2 separate regions of the Homo sapiens genome follow, and region 1 is linked to region 2. The links come from fine-mapping of genetic effects on gene expression. Tissue or cell type: putamen. Region 2 holds a variant in brackets; the other region holds the start of a gene. All regions are shown on one strand. Distances are from middle to middle.

Region 1 (8,331 bases), 28 kb after region 2:
TCACCACCCGCTAACTGATCTCAAACCCCTTTGCAAACATCTTCTCATCTGATTCTCCATTCCAGGCAGGCATTTTATCATCCAGAACTGTTCTGTGGGGGGGAAGCGGGGGGTCTCTGTGTGGCTGGGTGGCTTGTCCTAGGATACCTAGCACAGAGAACTCTGTCCCCCAATTTCTTAGTTGCCCCCACCCATTCCTTCCTCACATCAGCATGGGCAAGGCCAGCTGTGGTTTGGGTCACTGTTCAGGCTGTACTTTTAGGATCCTCCCAAATAGCAAACAACTATGTGACTATCAGGTCTTTATTTCATGGGTTATAGGAGATAGGGTCAGTAAGCCTAATGTGTAACAGTTTCAGTGGTTATTACAGAGTTCCATTGAATTGCAACAACTCCCTTTAAAAGCACAAACTCCCACCAAGAAAATCTCAGTTTCTTCATTAATCCTAAGAGCTTTCCTATCTAGGTATCACTCAAAATTCCTACTATTCTGGGGGCAATGGGATCAGAGGGTGTTGCAGAGAAAAATCCAGAGAAAGTGAAAAGTCTACTTCCTTGGCAGTGCTGGTGAAGCATACCCTTACACAGACGCTTCCCCATGGGAACAAGTGCCAGGAACTGCTTCAGGCTTACGGGGGAAAACAGTGGCTAAGAAGAGAGAGGAGGCCGGGCACGGTGACTCATGCCTGTAATCCCAGCACTTTGGGAGACTGAGGCAGGCAGATCACCTGAGGTCAGGAGTTCAAGACCAGCCTGGCCAACATGGTGAAGCCCCGTCTCTACTAAAAATACAAAAATTAGCCGGGCATGGTGGTGCATGCCTGTAATCCCAGCTACTCGGGAGGCCAAGGGAGGAGAATCATTTAAACCCAGGGAGCGGAGGTTGCAGTGAGCCAAGATTGCATCACTGCACTCCAGCCTGGGTGACAGGGCGAAATCTGTCTCAAAAAAAAAAAAAAAAAAAAAGACAGCAGAAGAAGAGGGGTGAATCCAGGAGGAAGGAGGGGGTGCACCAGAAAGGTCCCAGGACCTCTGATGTTCCAGCATTCAGCATGCATTTTGGTTCCACATTCAGCTCCTGCCCACACCAGTTTCTTTTCTCTATTCTACAATTTCCAAGAAGAACCCACACTAACCTATTCTGTCTCAACTCCCACTCCTGTCATCCCAAGCCACACATCACCTCCCCAATCACGTGAACTAGGCATCACTAATCGATCCTGGCCTTCTAGACACATCCACCCAGGGTGGGCCCTTTCTATAGTATCATGCATAAAGGCGTCAGGTGAGGCTTCCACTCCCACCTCTTAGTCCCAATTCATCTCCATCTCACCCTCCCCACGTTTCTCTATCCAAACCCAGCCTTCAAGGTCCTATATTTTAACCACAGGGAAACCACTTCCCTGTGCTGTCTCTGTTGTTCAACTAACGACAACTAATTTTCTGAGCACCTACATTAGGCAAGGCCCATCCTGAGTGCTGCCACCAAGAGGTAAGTCAGAAACAGCCCCCACCCTCCAGAGTCAGAGGACAGGGCAGCGATAAGCCACACCGCCACACAAATACTATGCAAGGCGAGAGATGAGAACCGAGTCAGTGCCAGAAGGGCTGAGTGAGCTCAGAGCATATCCCGTCCCTCCTGCTGGGAGCAGGCACCCGGATGGCTCCCAGGAGGGTGGAGAATGCTAGGCCAGACAGGGGAGGGAGGGCATTCCAGTAAGACAGAGAGCATGAGCTTAGCATGAGCTAAGCCAGAAAGACGGTTCAGGAGAAGTGCATTTCAACTTTAGCTGAACCTTCCACTGCTACTATTTATTGACCCTTACACCTGATTATTTATGACCCAGGCCTGCCTCACACACTTTATGGCTAATGTGGGTGACACCCATCTGGGATACACAAGTGTGGTGCAGCAGTCACCACCTGTTCTGACTGGTCCGTACCTGAGCTCTGTATTGTTATTAAATAAATGAATGCACTGAATCTCACAAGCCTGTGAGGCAGGGATTACTATTACCCCCATTTTACAGATGAAAAACCAAAGCACAGACAATAGTCAAAGAAAAGATAGCAAGGTATGCAGGAGCCTGAAGTAGTGGGCACCCAATGCCAGGGCAACAAACTGCCCTGGCACCTCACCTGGCCTCTCTTATCAGGGAACACCTTGCAGCACAAAGAATGCCTTGAGGAAAGGGGCCCTGTTAATCCCCTGGAATCCCCAACAATTGACTGCCGCATAAAAGGAATGAGGAAAGCAATGAGAGCCAGTGAAGGGTGAGCATACCAGGCCCTGCCCTGCAAACCTAGTCCCTGTTGCGTGGGCAGGGCAGGGCAGGGCAGGGCAGGGGCTCGGCCTCACAGCTCCACTCCATGCCCAGCGCAGAGAACAGAGGGGAGAGCTACCACAAACGCCGAATCTCTACAGAGAGGTCAAGGATTGGAGGGCAGAGACAGAAATGCCCCGGGCTGACTGTTTCCAGCTTGGGCTAGCACTGGCTGGCTTAACTTTTCCCCTCCAAAGTCTCTAGGTAACAAACTTCGCGTGTCTCCTTTAAACCAACAGACCATTTTACCTAAGTCTTAAGGGCCTGGCCTGCACCCATGGGAGATACAAGTCCAGGAATCCCTTCCTGAAACTGGGGATCAAGGTTGGGGAAGGGGCGAAGGCACGCACAGCACCTGGGATGGCTCCCGCATTCCCTCAAACACTGGGGAGAGTTCCTTACAAATAAACTGCAATGGTAGCAGCTCCCAGGAATGTGCGTGCTCCCAGTTTCGGAGGAAAGTTCCTGAAGATAGCCTTCTCTGCTTAATCTCCCCAAGCCTCGCCTAGAAGGGCGCGCGCACCCTGGAGGGCTCCGCAGGGCTGCGGGGCCGGGCCTCCGGCACCCCTCCCGCCACCCGTTGCCTCCTGCGCCCAGGGTCACGGCCCCTGGCCCTACCCAGGCCCAGACTGAGACCCCGACCCCTGAGCCCGGGGGGACGGCGAGTGCACCCCGACCACACATGAGGGAGCAGCCCCAGACGCCGAGGCTGATCTAGGGGGCTGCCAGGCCGACACGGCCCGCCCGCGACCCGCCGACGCCCTCCCCTGCCCCCCACCCCCACGCCTGTAGTGCAACCAGGAAGCCGCAGGGCCGCGCTGGGCTGGGCGCCAGGCAGCCCCGGGCCTCACCCGCGGCGCCGCGGTGCACTGCCGCCGCCTGGTCCCAGGCCCCCAGCCGGCTCGGGACCCTCACTCACCTGGCCACGGGGACTCCGGACGCGAGGGGCGAAATGGGACGTGGGCGGGAGTGGCTCTCTCCGCGGGCGTCCCGGGCGCGGCGCCTGGGTTCTGCCTAGGGGCTGGGTCCCACTCCCGCTCGCGGGGCCCGCGGGGCACTCGGGGCACTGGGGAGCCGCGGGCGCAGCAGCCGTCAGCGCCGGGCGGAAAACTCCGCGGGCGCGGCTGCCCCAGGTGCCAGAGGCAGTGCAAGGGAGGGGCGGGGCCTGAGCGCGGCCCCGCCCCCAAGATGAGGACTGGGCACGGCGGGCCCGCGAGGAGCAGCAGCCTTCCGGCTGCGGAGCTGCTCCAGGAAGTCTCGGGCTCCGGAGGTCCCTCTGCCGCCCCTAACCCCTGCGGCGCCCAGTGCCGCGCAGAGCCGCATTCGCCCTCCTGCAGGGGTGGGCATTTCCTAAGTCCTCTCCAGCCCCGTGTGCGTCGGTTAGTGACTCTCTTTAAGGTCGAGAAAACTTTTTACACTGAAAAGGTCAAACGCATTTCCTTTATAGCAACACTCGGTGGTGGTGGAGGGGGGAAGGTCACGCACAGTATGTGAGGAAGGGAGCGGTCAGTGACTATCGTGGAGAAACCTGACAAACCACCCAGCCGTCAAGGTGACCTCGACAGGGGTAAATCATACTGATTGCATGCACCGCTTGTGGTCTTCCTCCCAAGAACACCTAACCCCACTGTAATCATGAGGAAAACATCACAAATCAATTGAGGCCCTTGCCATATACATGACCAGTACTCCTGAAAACTAGCAAGGTCATCAAAAACAAGGAAAGTCTAGGACACTGTCACAGCCAAGAGGAACCCACGGAGATATAAAAATGACTTAAGATGTTAATAATAGGAAAAGCCCGGGTTTATGAGAATTCCCTGTATTCACACTTTTTCTGTAAATCTAAAGATGTTCTAAAAATAAAGCATATTTTTAAAAGGTCACCCAGGTAATATATGCATATATGGTAGGTATACAATTTTTTTTTTTAATGAGTGGTGGCTGACGCCTGTAATCTCAGCACTTTGGAAGGCCAAGACAGGAGGATGGCTTGAAGACAGGGCTTCCAGACTAGCCTGGGCAACATAGTGAGACCCAGTCTCTAAAAAACTAAAAATAAAAAATTCAAAAAATGAGTAAAAATTGAGATTCACTCTTCCCTCCACTCCCCCAGCCCACTCTTAGGTGTGTCCTTCCAAATATCTCTCTTTAACACTGTGTGTGTGTGTTTACATAAACGTATTGTTTACAAAACGATATTGCAGTACTTTTCTGCAACATGTTTTTTTACTCACTATATCTTGGAGGGTCTTTCCATACAAGTGCTCCTGAACAGACCTGGTTCTTCCCATCCACTGCACACTGCGCGCCATCGTGCGCTTCACCATTCTTCATTACCTAGCTCCTTACTGAAGGACATTTAGGTTGTTGCCTATGTTTGGCTGTTACAAACAAGCTGCTGGTTCGATTTTCCTTTTTTTTTTTTTTTTTCTGAGACGGAGTCTCGATCTGTCGCCCAGGCTGGAGTGCAGTGGCGCGATCTCGGCTCACTGCAACTTCCGCCTCCCGGGTTCAAGCGATTCTCCTGCCTCGGCCTCCTGAGTTGCTGGATCTACAGATGCCCACCACCACGCCCGGCTAATTTTCATTTTTAGTAGAGACGGGGTTTCACTATGTTGGCCAAGCTGTTCTCGAACTCCTAGGCTCAAATGATCCGCCCGCCTCGGCCTCCCAAAGTGCTGGGATTACAGGCGTGAGCCACCGCGCCCGGCCCGATTTGCGTTTTAAAGTCGCTCTGAACAATAAAATCCGGAAGGACTGGAGGGGAGGCTCCGACCTTCTCCCTGTCTGGGCAGGTGTGCTGGTGCCGGGCAGGAACGGTGCCTTGGGACAGCCTGGCCCCGGCCTCACAACGGGCCCCGGGCGCTCAGTCATATTCCGTGGCCGCTCCAACACCCCCTACCCCCACCAGCAGGCGCGGCTCTCTTTCGGGGCTGGACTGCATTTTTTGGACATGAGTCGGCGAGTGAGGGTGAAACTCAGGCCAAAGTCTCCAGAGCCGCTCGGAGAAAACGCTGCCTGGAACAGAAGAGCAGAGGATCAGAGGCACCACCAGAGACTCTCAGAGTGGGTTATTACCCTGGTGGGGGCGCCTGCTGCGGCGTAGGAGATGGCGGGACTGGGGGCGCGGGTGTGAAGCCCCCAAGAAATCTGTGTGAATTTCCTGGGGAGGTAAGGTCTCCAGGCGCTCTCTCTGGGCCCGGGGATTGGTCCGGGAAGGTCTCCTGGCGCCTACCCAGCCCCCACTGCCTGGACGCCTGCGCCTGCTCTGCCGCCCCACAGCGACCGCGAAGGCCAGCTTCTTCGAAAGGCCCATTTTTCTCCGTGGCTGAGCGAATGCTCCTAGAATACCACGTTTATAATAAATCATGTAGGGTGGAATTCCTGCTGGATGTATACACCTTTCTGCATCAGAGCTCTTCAAACCCAGAATGGTGAATAGCTACCCCTGGGCTTACCCTTTTATAATTTTCAACAAACCTGCGTTTAGCCCCGGCTAGGTGCCAGCAAGTTGCTAGGGACTGAGGAGGCTCTGCAGAGGACCCGAGCTGAGGCCCTAATCCTCAAGGCCAATGGCAGGGGTCACCGCCCAGGCACCCCCAGAGAACGCGGTGTGAAGGAAAAGACACCAAACTCGGTGTTCAAATGTGTGGGATCTATTCTAGTTCTGATTCTGACACTTGCAAGTCATGCATCCTCCGAGCCTCGGCTTTCTCACCTATAAAATCTTCAACGTGACCTATAAAAATCCATAAAATCACCCCTGCTTCATTGTTTCCCAGGGCTCATAGAAACATCATACAAGGTAAGGGAAGGTGAGTGCACTGTAAAAAATGGTGACGTGCTATATAGCTCTGAGTAGTATGGTATATAAGCTTCCTTTTTAAAAATTTTAATTTTAGGGCCAGTGTTGGGATTACGGGTGTGAGTTACCGCACCCGGCCTCTTTTGTTGTTTTCTAATAAGTATATATGACTATCATTTCCCTCAAAAGTCTGCTTTAGCTGAATATCACAAGTTTTAATATGCTATGCTTTTGTTATCACTTAGTTATACATATTTGGATTTTGTTGTTGTTGTTGTTACAGAGTCTCGCTCTGTCGTCCAGGCTGGACTGCAGTGGCAAGATCTCAGCTCACTGCAACCTCCACTTCCCGGGTTCAAGAGATTTTCCTGCCTCAACCTCCTGAGTAGCTGGGATTACAGGTGCACGCCACCACACCCGGCTAATTTTTTAATTTTTAGTAGAGATGGGGTTTTACCATTTTGGCCAGGCTGGTCTCCAACTCCTGACCTCAAGTGATCCACCGGCCTCAGCCTCCCAAAGTGTCGGGATTACAGGCGTCAGCCACTGTGCCTGGCCAATATTTTGTTTTTTATGTTAGGATTGTATGCTTAATTCATGGATTATTTAGACGTATATTTTCCATTCTTTTTTTGTTTTCAAACTTCAGTTTTTTAAAAAATAATAATAATCATTTGGGGAGGGGCCCAGTGGCTCAGGCATGTAATCCCAGCACTCTGGGAGGCCAAGGTGGGAAGATCGCTTGAGATCAGGAGTTTAAGACCAGCCTGGGCAACACAGTGAGAGCCCCTCTACAAAAAAAAATTTAAATAAAAATAAATCAATCATTTTGTCATTGATCTCTAACTTTAATGCTTGGAGATGAGGAAATGTGTTCTTTTAGAATTTGTTAATGCCTCCTTTGTGGCCTCATATACAGACTTTTTTTGGCTGTCCCAATTTTTGTGAACGTCTCTTCACTTTTTATGTGGTTTTTTTTTCTCTATATCTCTCCATCTAGCTTGCTAATCAGGTTATTTAGATCTTTTATCTCCTGGGTTTTTTTTTTTTTTCTCTCCTGTTCAATCCATTGATTTCTGAAAGAGTAGGTTTAACATTTCCCACTTTTATTGTAGTTTGTCAATTTCTCCCTCTAATTTAGTCTGATTTTGCTTTATACTATTTTTTTTGGTTTTTTGATTTTTGTTTAAGAGGCAGTGTCTCACCATGTTTCCCAGGCTGGAGTACAGTAGCTATTCACAGGTGTGATTATAACTGCAGCCTCAAACTCCTGACCTCAAGCCATCCTCCTGCCTCAGCCTCCTAGGTGGCTGGCATTACAGCCATGTACCACCTCACCCGGCCAGCCTTATAATTTTGAGAGCAAATTATTAGGCTTATACAAATTAATATTGTTTTATCCTTTTATGACTTATTCAGTTTTATTACTTTTTGTATAAATATTGTTATCCTGAGATAGCATTTGTCTAGTATATGTTTTATTTCTCCTTTTTTACTCTTTCTGTATTGTTACTTAGGTTTATCTCTTGGAAATGACATATTGTTTTTTACAAGATTTAAAAAGTTCATCTGAGTTTCTATTTCTAATTTGTGAGTTTAACCAGTTCACATTGATAAGAATAACAGAAATATTTGGGTTTATTTCTGCCATCATTTGTGTTATACATATACCCTTGAAATGGATATTCATCTAGAACACATTGATAAAATCCTATAAATTATTACAAACTGGAATTCTTCCATGCTGCTTGGTAAATAGCTGCTCACCTGAGACCCCACAGTGCCCCCACTCCTGACCTTCTTCTGATCTGGCAAAAAAGGGTCAATGCTTCTCACAGGGAGACCCTCTAGGACCTTTTCTAAGATTCTAATTAGTCAGCAAACAGGCTACACCAGTGGCTTAATATTTCAAATATCATGTACAATATGCTTTCTTGTTGTTTCTTTTTTCTCTTTCCCTGCATTCGTTTGGATTGTTTGAATTTTCTTTAATAGGAGGGAGGTACAAGAATTACAGATGTATCAATAAATACCAGCCTACTAGTACCTTTACCAGAATATCCCTCAAAAGCTCAAATTTATCATGTCAAGAAATGAACTTTTTCTCTCTAAACCTGCTTTTTCTCCTGGGTTCTGTCCCCCGCTGGGGTACCACAGTCTGACAAGCCATTCCAGCTAGAGATCTGATAGCAGCTGGAT
Region 2 (8,331 bases):
AACCTGCAGGGTCCCTCAACAATCACACCTGCTCGTCTCGAGTATGTGGCTTCTTTTTACACACTGGGTTTCACGCTGCAATGCATATCAGAATCACCTGATGGGATTGTTAAAACACATTGCTGGGCTCCACCACCAAGAGTTTCTGAGACAGTGGAACCAGTTTTTGCATTTGGAACAAGTTTCCAGATGATGTTACTGGTCCAGGGAACTCACTTTGAAGACCACTGTTCTAGCCACGCTATCCAACTATAAGAGTCTAGCTGCCCTTCATATCTATCTTGAAGAACTGGGCATATTGGGTTTTGTTTGTTTGAGACAGGGTCTCGCTCTGTCACCCAGACTGGAGTGCACTGGCACAATCATGGCTCACTGCAGCCTGGACCTCCTGGGCTCAGGTAATCCTCCCGCCTCAGCCTCCTAAAGACATGTGCCACCACACACAGCTAATTTTTTTTTTTGAGAGTCTTACTATGTTGCCGAGGCTGGTATATGCTGTTCTTTTTAAGTTTTTTTATTATTTATTTTTATTTTTTTGAGACAGGGTCTCACTCTGTAACCCAGGCTGGAGTGCAATGGTGTGATCTCGGCTCACTGCAACCTCTGCCTCCTGGGTTCAAGTGATTCTCCTGCCTCAGCCTCCCAAGTAGCTAGGATTACAGGCGCCCGCCATCATGTCTGGCTAATTTTTGTATTTTTAGCAGAGACAGGGTTTCACCATGTTGGCCAGGCTGGTCTCGAACTCCTGACCTCAGGTGATCTGCCTGCCTCGGCTTCCCAAAGTGTTAAGATTACAGGCATGAGCCACCATGCCTGGCCTACTTTTATTTTTTAAACAGCGTCTCACTCTATCACCCAGGCTGGAGTGCAGTGGTGCGAGCTCAGCTCACTGTAACCTCCGCCTCCTGGGATCAAGGGATTCTTGTGCCTCAGCCTCCAACAGGAGGGCGCAACCATCCCTGGCTAATTTTTGTATTTTTAGTAGAGATGGAGTTTCGCCATGTTGGCCAGGCTGGTCTGAACTCCTGGCCTCAAGTGATCTGCCCGCTGCGGCCTCCCACAGTGCTGGGATTACAGGCATGAGCCACTGTGCCCAGCCTACATGCTGTTTTTAAGGAAGCTAAAGAACTTCCTTAAGGTACCACCGGTCCCCATAGGGTGGGCCTGGTTTTCAGCCCTACGGGTGTAGTCATTTGTTTGGGTCAGTGGGTCCAGAGGTGACCGTAGGCAAAGCCCTATGGCTTTGGAGAAAGCTGGAATTGGCTCCCTGTAGTGTGGACCAAGGACCTACTCCTTGCAGTTTTCGGTCTCTCTGAGCCCCTAAGCACGTGGTGGATGAGGTCCCCGGTGGCATCACCTTCAGAGAGGGTGTCCCTGAGGCTGGGTGGGCTGTCAGTACAAAGCCCTCCCCGTCCCGGCCCCAGCCTGACCCTTCTGCCCAGACTCTGCCAAACCCTCAGACTTCACTGGTGAGGAGGTAATCTGGGGGATGTAAATGACCAGTAGGCCAGGAACCTTCTAATAGAAGGAACTGCCCGACAGGTGAGCAGGAAGAGCCGGGATGGTGTCTCTGTCACCTTCCTCTCTGGAGACACCACTAGGCAGGACCTTTGAGCACCAAAGACACTCTCCACTCCTGGCCTCCTCTCAGAGAAATGAAGCCAAAAGCTCCATCCACAGCCAGGCCAGGGAAAAAACCCAAGAAACAGAAGCTGGATACCACCCTGTTCCTTATACCAAGTAAATTCCAGCCAGGCCAAATAATGCAGTGAAAGAAGTAGCCCCAAAAACCAACGACATAAATAAAATTTCAGCATAAGAGACAAATTAAAAAAAAATAAAGATGAGAAAAAAACTTAGGAAAAAAGTTTTATTAATATAATAAGAAAAAGATCAATAACCACTAGAGAAACTGTCAAATGATGTGAACAGATCTGGCAGTTACAGAAAAGGAGCTGAAGATGCTCACCTTCACCAATGTGCTGAGGAAATCACCAATTAAAAATACACAGATGTCGGCTGGGCGCAGTGGCTCATGCCTGTAATCCCAGCACTTTGGGAGGCCGAGGTGGGCAGATCACCTGAGGTCAGGAGTTCGAGACCAGCCTGGCCATGGTGAAACACTGTCTCTACTAAAAATACAAAAATTAGCCAGGCGTGGTGGTGGGTGCCTGTAATACCAGCTACTCGGGAGGCTGAGGCAGGAGAATGGCTGGAACCTGGGAGGCGGAAGTTGCAGTGAGCCAAGATTATGCCACTGCACTCCAGCCTGGGTGACAGAGCGAGACTCCGTCTCCAAAATAAATAAATAAATAAAATACAAAGATATCAAAACTTAAAATGACATACCTTTGACTCAGCAACTCCACTTCTGTAAGTCTCTTCCCCAGACACACACCTGTGTGAAATGTCATACAGACATGAATTTTACTACAGCCTTATCTGCAACAACTCCTAAACCTCCACCAATGAGGCTGGTTAAATAAACCACAACAGATCCAACAATGGATACTCTGTAGCTATTTCTGGATTTAGCCAGCTCTGTATATGGAAAGATGCAATGACCACCATTATTAATCAAGGTGCAGTACTGTGTATGTACTAAGCTAATAAAAAACCCAGAAACATACAAACTAAGTGGTTCCTGAGTGTAGACGTGCACGGACATCCTTGGAATGACACACAAGAAACTAGCTAACACTAGCTGCCTCTCGAGAGGAAAGGTGGGGCTAGAAAATGAGGCTTCCGGTTTAGATCTGTTCCCTGTGCATTTCTGCTGCATGTATGTATTGGCCATTAAACAACTTTTAAAAAGGCCCAATTCAGGTGCAGATTTCTGAGCTCACTTGAGGCTAGCCGTCTGGCCCCCAAAGTCCTGGCTGGTCTTCCAAGACTAAAAGAACACACACAGGGTCCATTCAGTTCCAGGCAGCCTTGGTAACCCTGGAGGGCCTGCAGGCCAGCCTTGATGGCGCTCGTGGAGCTCATTCTTGGGGTGGCTTTTAAGGGAGTTCCCAGCAGGAGTCAAAATCTGCCTCCTGGCTAGGAGCTCTGCCCTGCATGGCCCCACAGGGCAGGTCGACCCCACTGTGAGCTGTGGTCCTGCGACCCTGGGTCTTCCCCTCTCCCCAAGATATACCTCTAGTCCTCCGTTCTTAGAAAGAATAGCCTCATTTTTCCCTCTGTCATTCTCTGCCTGAAATAGTTTCAAGCCTGCTCCCCACTTTTTTTTTTTTTTTTGAGACGGAGTCTCACTGTGTCACCCAGGCTGCAGTGCAGTGGCGCAATCTCAGCTCACTGCAACCTCCACCTCCTCGGTGCAAGCAATTCTCCTGCCCTAGCCTCCCAAGTAGCTGGGACTACAGGCACCTGAGGCACCTGCCACCACACCAGGCTGATTTTTGTATTTTTAGTAGAGACAGAGTTTCACTATGTTGGCCAGGCTGGTCTCGAACTCCCAACCTCAGATGATCCGCCCGCCTCAGCCTCCCAAAGTTCTGGGATTACATGCCTGGCCTGACCCCACTCTTATCTTTTAGTTCTTTTCAGGACCAAACGCCCCAGGTATGGTCTGAAGAGTGCAGGGCGGGACCTTCATCTCCCTCCAGTGGATGCTACTCCCTACCTCCCCGGACTGGTACAAGTGGGTTTTCAGGCCACGGAGACCTTATGTGGGCTCCTGTGAAATTTCTCCCCTGGGTTCTGCCCATTGCTCCAGTCTCCTGAGACCTTCTGGGATTCTGCTCAACATCAAACATCTTCCCCCTCTCTCTCAGCTTTGTTTTACATCCATGGATGCAATAAGCATGGCATTTGTGTTCTGCCAAGTAACCAAGACGAAAGGGACAACGAGGGACACTACAGAACTGTCATACTCAGAACTCCCCAGTTCAACATCAAACACTAGGCATCATGTGGGTGCAGGCATTTAACCAGCTCTCCCCCAACTCACTCTGCCACCACCCAGTACACATTTCTCCACATGCCCAAGTGAGGGTTCTAGCACATTTACTCTGAAGAGAGCCTGTTTATCTGCCTAATTACCCCCAGGAGAAAAGTAAACGCAGCCCAATAGCCAGGGGTGACCTTCAGGTGGACACAGGCTCCCAGCGCTGACCAATCTCCCCCCAAGCTATCCATGTTCTAGGAGGCTAGAGGCTGCAGGATTAGCACACTGCTCTCTGACTCACA[G/C]AAGCAGCATTCTTCTCCTCCTTTTCTTTGAAAATTAAGAAATCTGCTCATGGTCCAGTCTTCTGGTAACTGTGACCTCTGCATTTTTTCAAAAGAGGCTACCGCAAGGGGCTGTCCTTGGAGAAGTCGTTCCTGGCACCCCAGGGCTGCCATATCTGGGCTCGGCAAGACTTCTAAGGCCCTCGGGTCCCCCTCCCTAGCCTGTCCAGCACCCACTCCCCAGGAGAGAGGCAACACAGTGAGCTATAATCCAGAAGATCTGCTCTCTCTCTCTCTCTCTCTCTCTGGCATCCATGAGAATCATACCTTTCACCCTGACCAATGCCTCTCTCCTCCTTTCCTTGCATGGGGCAAGAGACATGCTTCACACTGCTGGTGCAATTCTGATGGCTGGGGCATGTCCCCCGCTCTACGCCTGCTTCTAATCACGGCCCTCTGACATGGGGACTCACTGGAGAGGGCCTCCTGCACACAGCAGGCAGCTGGCCTCCTTAAGGATGGGTCCAATTCTTAGAAACCTGTCTCTGGGGACCTTCTGGCCTCTGGTCCTGCCTCTCAGGGCAGGCTGCAGCACAAATACCGCCCTTCCTTCCTCACTGCGACCATCCACCTGCAGCTGTGCACCTGATTTCATCCAGCTGGGGCCCTCTCCAGTTAAATCGGTGCTTCTGGAAAACAGTCCCCTATAGGGCTTGTTAAAACACAGATTGCTGGGCCCCACCTCCAGAGTCTTTGAATCAGTGTCTCTGGGGCAGGGCCCAAAAAGTTGCATTTCCAGTGGCTCCCAGGTGATGCTGATGCTGCCTGCCTGCAGGCCACACTGCTTCATCATGCATGATAATCACCTGGAGAGCTCACTAAACATGCTAGCGCCCTAGCCCCCATATTCTGGGCCTTCTAACCTGGGATAGGCCCAGGAATCTGAAGTGTAAACAAGCATACATACCCCCCAGTCCCCAGTAATTCTGATGTAACTGGTTCTGTGGTCCACACTCTAGGAAACACTCTTTCCCTTAAGGTATTGGACACTCTCTAGCTCATCTGATCTCACTCTTTGACATGGTTTGGATTTGTGTCCCTGCCCAAATTGTAATTTCTAATTACAATACAATCGAATTGTAATTCCCAGCATTGGAGGTGGGGCCAGGTGGGAGCTGACTGGATCATGGGGGCAGATTTCCCCCTTTGGTGCTGTTCTCATGATAGGGTTCTGGTGAGATCTGGTTGTTTAAAAGCGTGTAGCGCCTCCTCCCCACACCTCTCTTCCTCCTGCTCCAGCCAGGTTAAGATCTGCCTGCCACATGATTGTAAGTTTCCTGAGGCCTCCCCAAGCAGATGCCAGCATCATGCTTTCCCTCACTTGGAGAGCTGGCTAAAAATGCTGGTACCTTGGCTCCCATATTCTGGGCCCTTCAACCTGGCATAGGCCCAGCCTGCAGAACTGTGAGCCAATTAAACCTCTTTTCTTTATAAATTACCCAGTTTCAGATATTTCTTTATAGTCGTGTGAGAATGGACGAATATACTCTTCTTCACAATAGTAAGCTCTAGGGACACAGACTAGACCTAGGCACCCCCACAGTTGTATGACAGATGCACCTGACAGCAATCACTTAAGCATACCCAGAACGACCCTATAGTCTAAGAAGAATGTGTGTTCAGAGTTCTGAGCTGAGGAACTGTGGCCAACCTGGAGATCCATTCCTTATCTATAAGGAACATCAGAACCCCTAAGCCATTCCATGGCCATACAGGAGATCAAGGCCCTTTGTTCTGCGTTAAATGAAGGTTGCCAGGTGGAGGTGGTTAGGAAGGAGGATGCTAAATTAAAATGCTATACAAACTGCATGCTTTTTACAAATAGTAGTGGTCCTTCCATCCAGCCTGCTGCCACTGGACCGCCCCATATGTAAGTCCCCTCAATAAGCCCTATGCCTTGTTCGTTGGCTCTGGGTCTCTTCTTCGGCCTCTCAAACATGGTGCCATCCCTATTAAAGTTGACAGGAGTCTGGCATGACAGCACTGCATCAGAAGCCAGCCTCAAAGCGTCTGGTGAATGCCAAAAGCATAGAGCAGCTATCTGGGGGTGCTTCTCAGTGGCTGCAAAATGGCCTGTTCCCTAAAGCCATGTTACGTGTACGTAAGTGTACCATTCAACTCCACAGGCTCTAAAAGGGTACTAGCTGGAGTCCCCTAACACAGGAATCTAGAAATGCTACACTGGGACAGGAGGCAACTGCCAGAGCAAGAAGAGCCTCACTGCCCCGACTCAGTCATCCCCCTACCAAAAGGGAAGCCTTGCTGTGTCTCTACCCAACAATTGGAGGTGGAGATATGGGCTCCAGCCACCAGCAAGGCTAGGCCATGCACATTTGCTGGTGTCCTGCCTGACTTCAGGGATACAGAAGGGAAAGGAGGGGTGGATGGTGTCAGTGCCATGCCTGGGACTCTGGACTGTCCTCCCCAGAAAGACAACACAGGGCTCATTTGGGAACAGAGCCTACACCAGGTTAATGCTGAGAGGCAAGGGCCTAGAAACATCATCTCGGGCCAGAAGCCACACAGCAGTGACACCCCCTGCCCCTCAGGGCCTAACAGCAAACCAAGCAGACCGGGACTACAGTGGATGCTTTCATGGAGTGATTTTCCACTGGCCTTCCCCAGTCTGGTGGCTGGAATATTGATTTGTATATTAGTTTTTTTTTTTTTTAACATTAGATCCTTAACCTGTTTTTACACACACACACACAATTTATTTTTTAAAATACTTTCCCCATAAGGTTGTATCCATAAAATTTAAATATATCATTGCTATTGTTTAAATGTATCCCCCAAAGTTCATGTGCTGCAAACTTAATGGTCAATACAACAGTTCTGAGAGGCGGTACTTTTAAGAGGCTCTACCCTCACGAATGGATTAATGTGTTATGGAGGAAGTGGGCTCCTTACCACCAGTGTGTTTGTTACAAAAGTATAACATGCTCTCTCTTACCCGCATGATGTCTTCTGCCATGTTATGAAGCAGCAAGAAGGCCCTTGCCAGATGCAGCCTCACGATCTTCTCAGCCTCCAGAACTGTGAGCCAAATAAGCTACTATTGCTTATAAATTACTCAGTCTGTGATATTTTGTTAGAGCAGCACAAAATTAACTAAGACAATAGTTTAAACCAGGCAGGTCCAATAATCCCTGCTGATATATTCTTTAAAATGACAAGATGAGGCCAGGCACAGTGGCCCATGCCTATAATCCCAGCACTTTGGGAGGCTGACGCAGGCAGATCATTTGAGCTCAGAAGTTTGACACCAGCCTGGGCAACATAATGAGACCCTGTCGTTACAAAAATAAAATACAAAAAAATTAGCCGAGCACCATGGCATGCGACTGTGGTCCCAGCTACTCTACTCAGGAGGCTGAGGCAGGAGAATCATTTGAGCCTGGGAGGTGGAGGTTGCAGTGAGCCCAGATCACGCCATTGCACTCCAGCCTGGGCGATGGAAGTGAAACCCTGTCTCAAAAAAATAAAAAATAAATAAATAAAATAAAATGAAAGGAAGGAAAAACAAGCCATAGAATGGGAGAAAATAAATGCAAAAGACATATCTGATAAAGGGACTATTATCCAAAATATACAAAGAACTCTTAAATCTCAACAAGAAAACCTTACGATTTAAAAAATAGGCAAAAGACCTGAACAGACACTTCACCAAAGAGGATATAAGGTGGCAAATAAGCATATGAAAAGACGCTCAACATGTCATTAATAAATTGCAAATGAAAACAATAAGATACTACTATACACCTATTAGAATGGCCAAAATCCAAAACACTGATAACACCAAATGCTGGTGAGGATACAGAGCAACGGGAACTTTCATTCATCGCTGGTGGGGATGTAAAGCGGTATAGGCACTTTGGAAGACAGTTTGGTGGTTTCTTACAAAACTAAACATAGTTTTACCAATGATCCAGCAATCATGCTCTTGGTATTTACCCAAATAAGTTGAAAACTTCTGCCGCACACAAAACCTGCTCATGGACATTCACAGTAGTGTTATTCATAATGGCCAACAATTTGGAAGCACCCAAGGTTACACACTGTATAATTCTAACTCTACGATATTCTGGAGAAAGCAACTAT

Which allele goes with the higher level. Alleles are on the strand shown, and positions count from the first base shown. SD is a standard deviation of normalised expression in the study named.
As copies of C replace G in region 2, the expression in putamen of the gene that starts at base 3,438 in region 1 goes down (small effect, 0.29 SD a copy in GTEx).

What was found.
Region 1: ANXA11 starts here. The variant in region 2 is fine-mapped to the expression of ANXA11 in putamen (GTEx, PIP above 0.99). The same link has a PIP of 0.9 or more in nucleus accumbens and prefrontal cortex.

Annotation. Positions count from the first base shown.
Region 1 is chr10:80,202,100-80,210,430 of GRCh38, forward strand. It overlaps ANXA11 (annexin A11), which reads right to left and starts at 3,438. Exons shown (of 16, transcript NM_145868.2): 1 at 3,244-3,438. It overlaps LINC00857 (long intergenic non-protein coding RNA 857), which reads left to right and starts at 5,611. Exons shown (of 2, transcript NR_038464.1): 1 at 5,611-6,132. RefSeq lists enhancers at 1,127-1,216, 1,717-1,796, 4,436-5,077, 4,848-6,047, 5,078-5,719 and a silencer at 2,782-3,661.
Region 2 is chr10:80,173,758-80,182,088 of GRCh38, forward strand. ANXA11 (annexin A11) reads right to left here. Exons shown (of 16, transcript NM_145868.2): 2 at 2,350-2,398. Among named protein-coding and RNA genes, the nearest start is that of ANXA11, 28 kb to the right of the region's middle. RefSeq lists enhancers at 2,666-3,167, 3,168-3,667, 4,187-4,687. The variant G/C (reference allele first, on the strand shown) is at 4,192.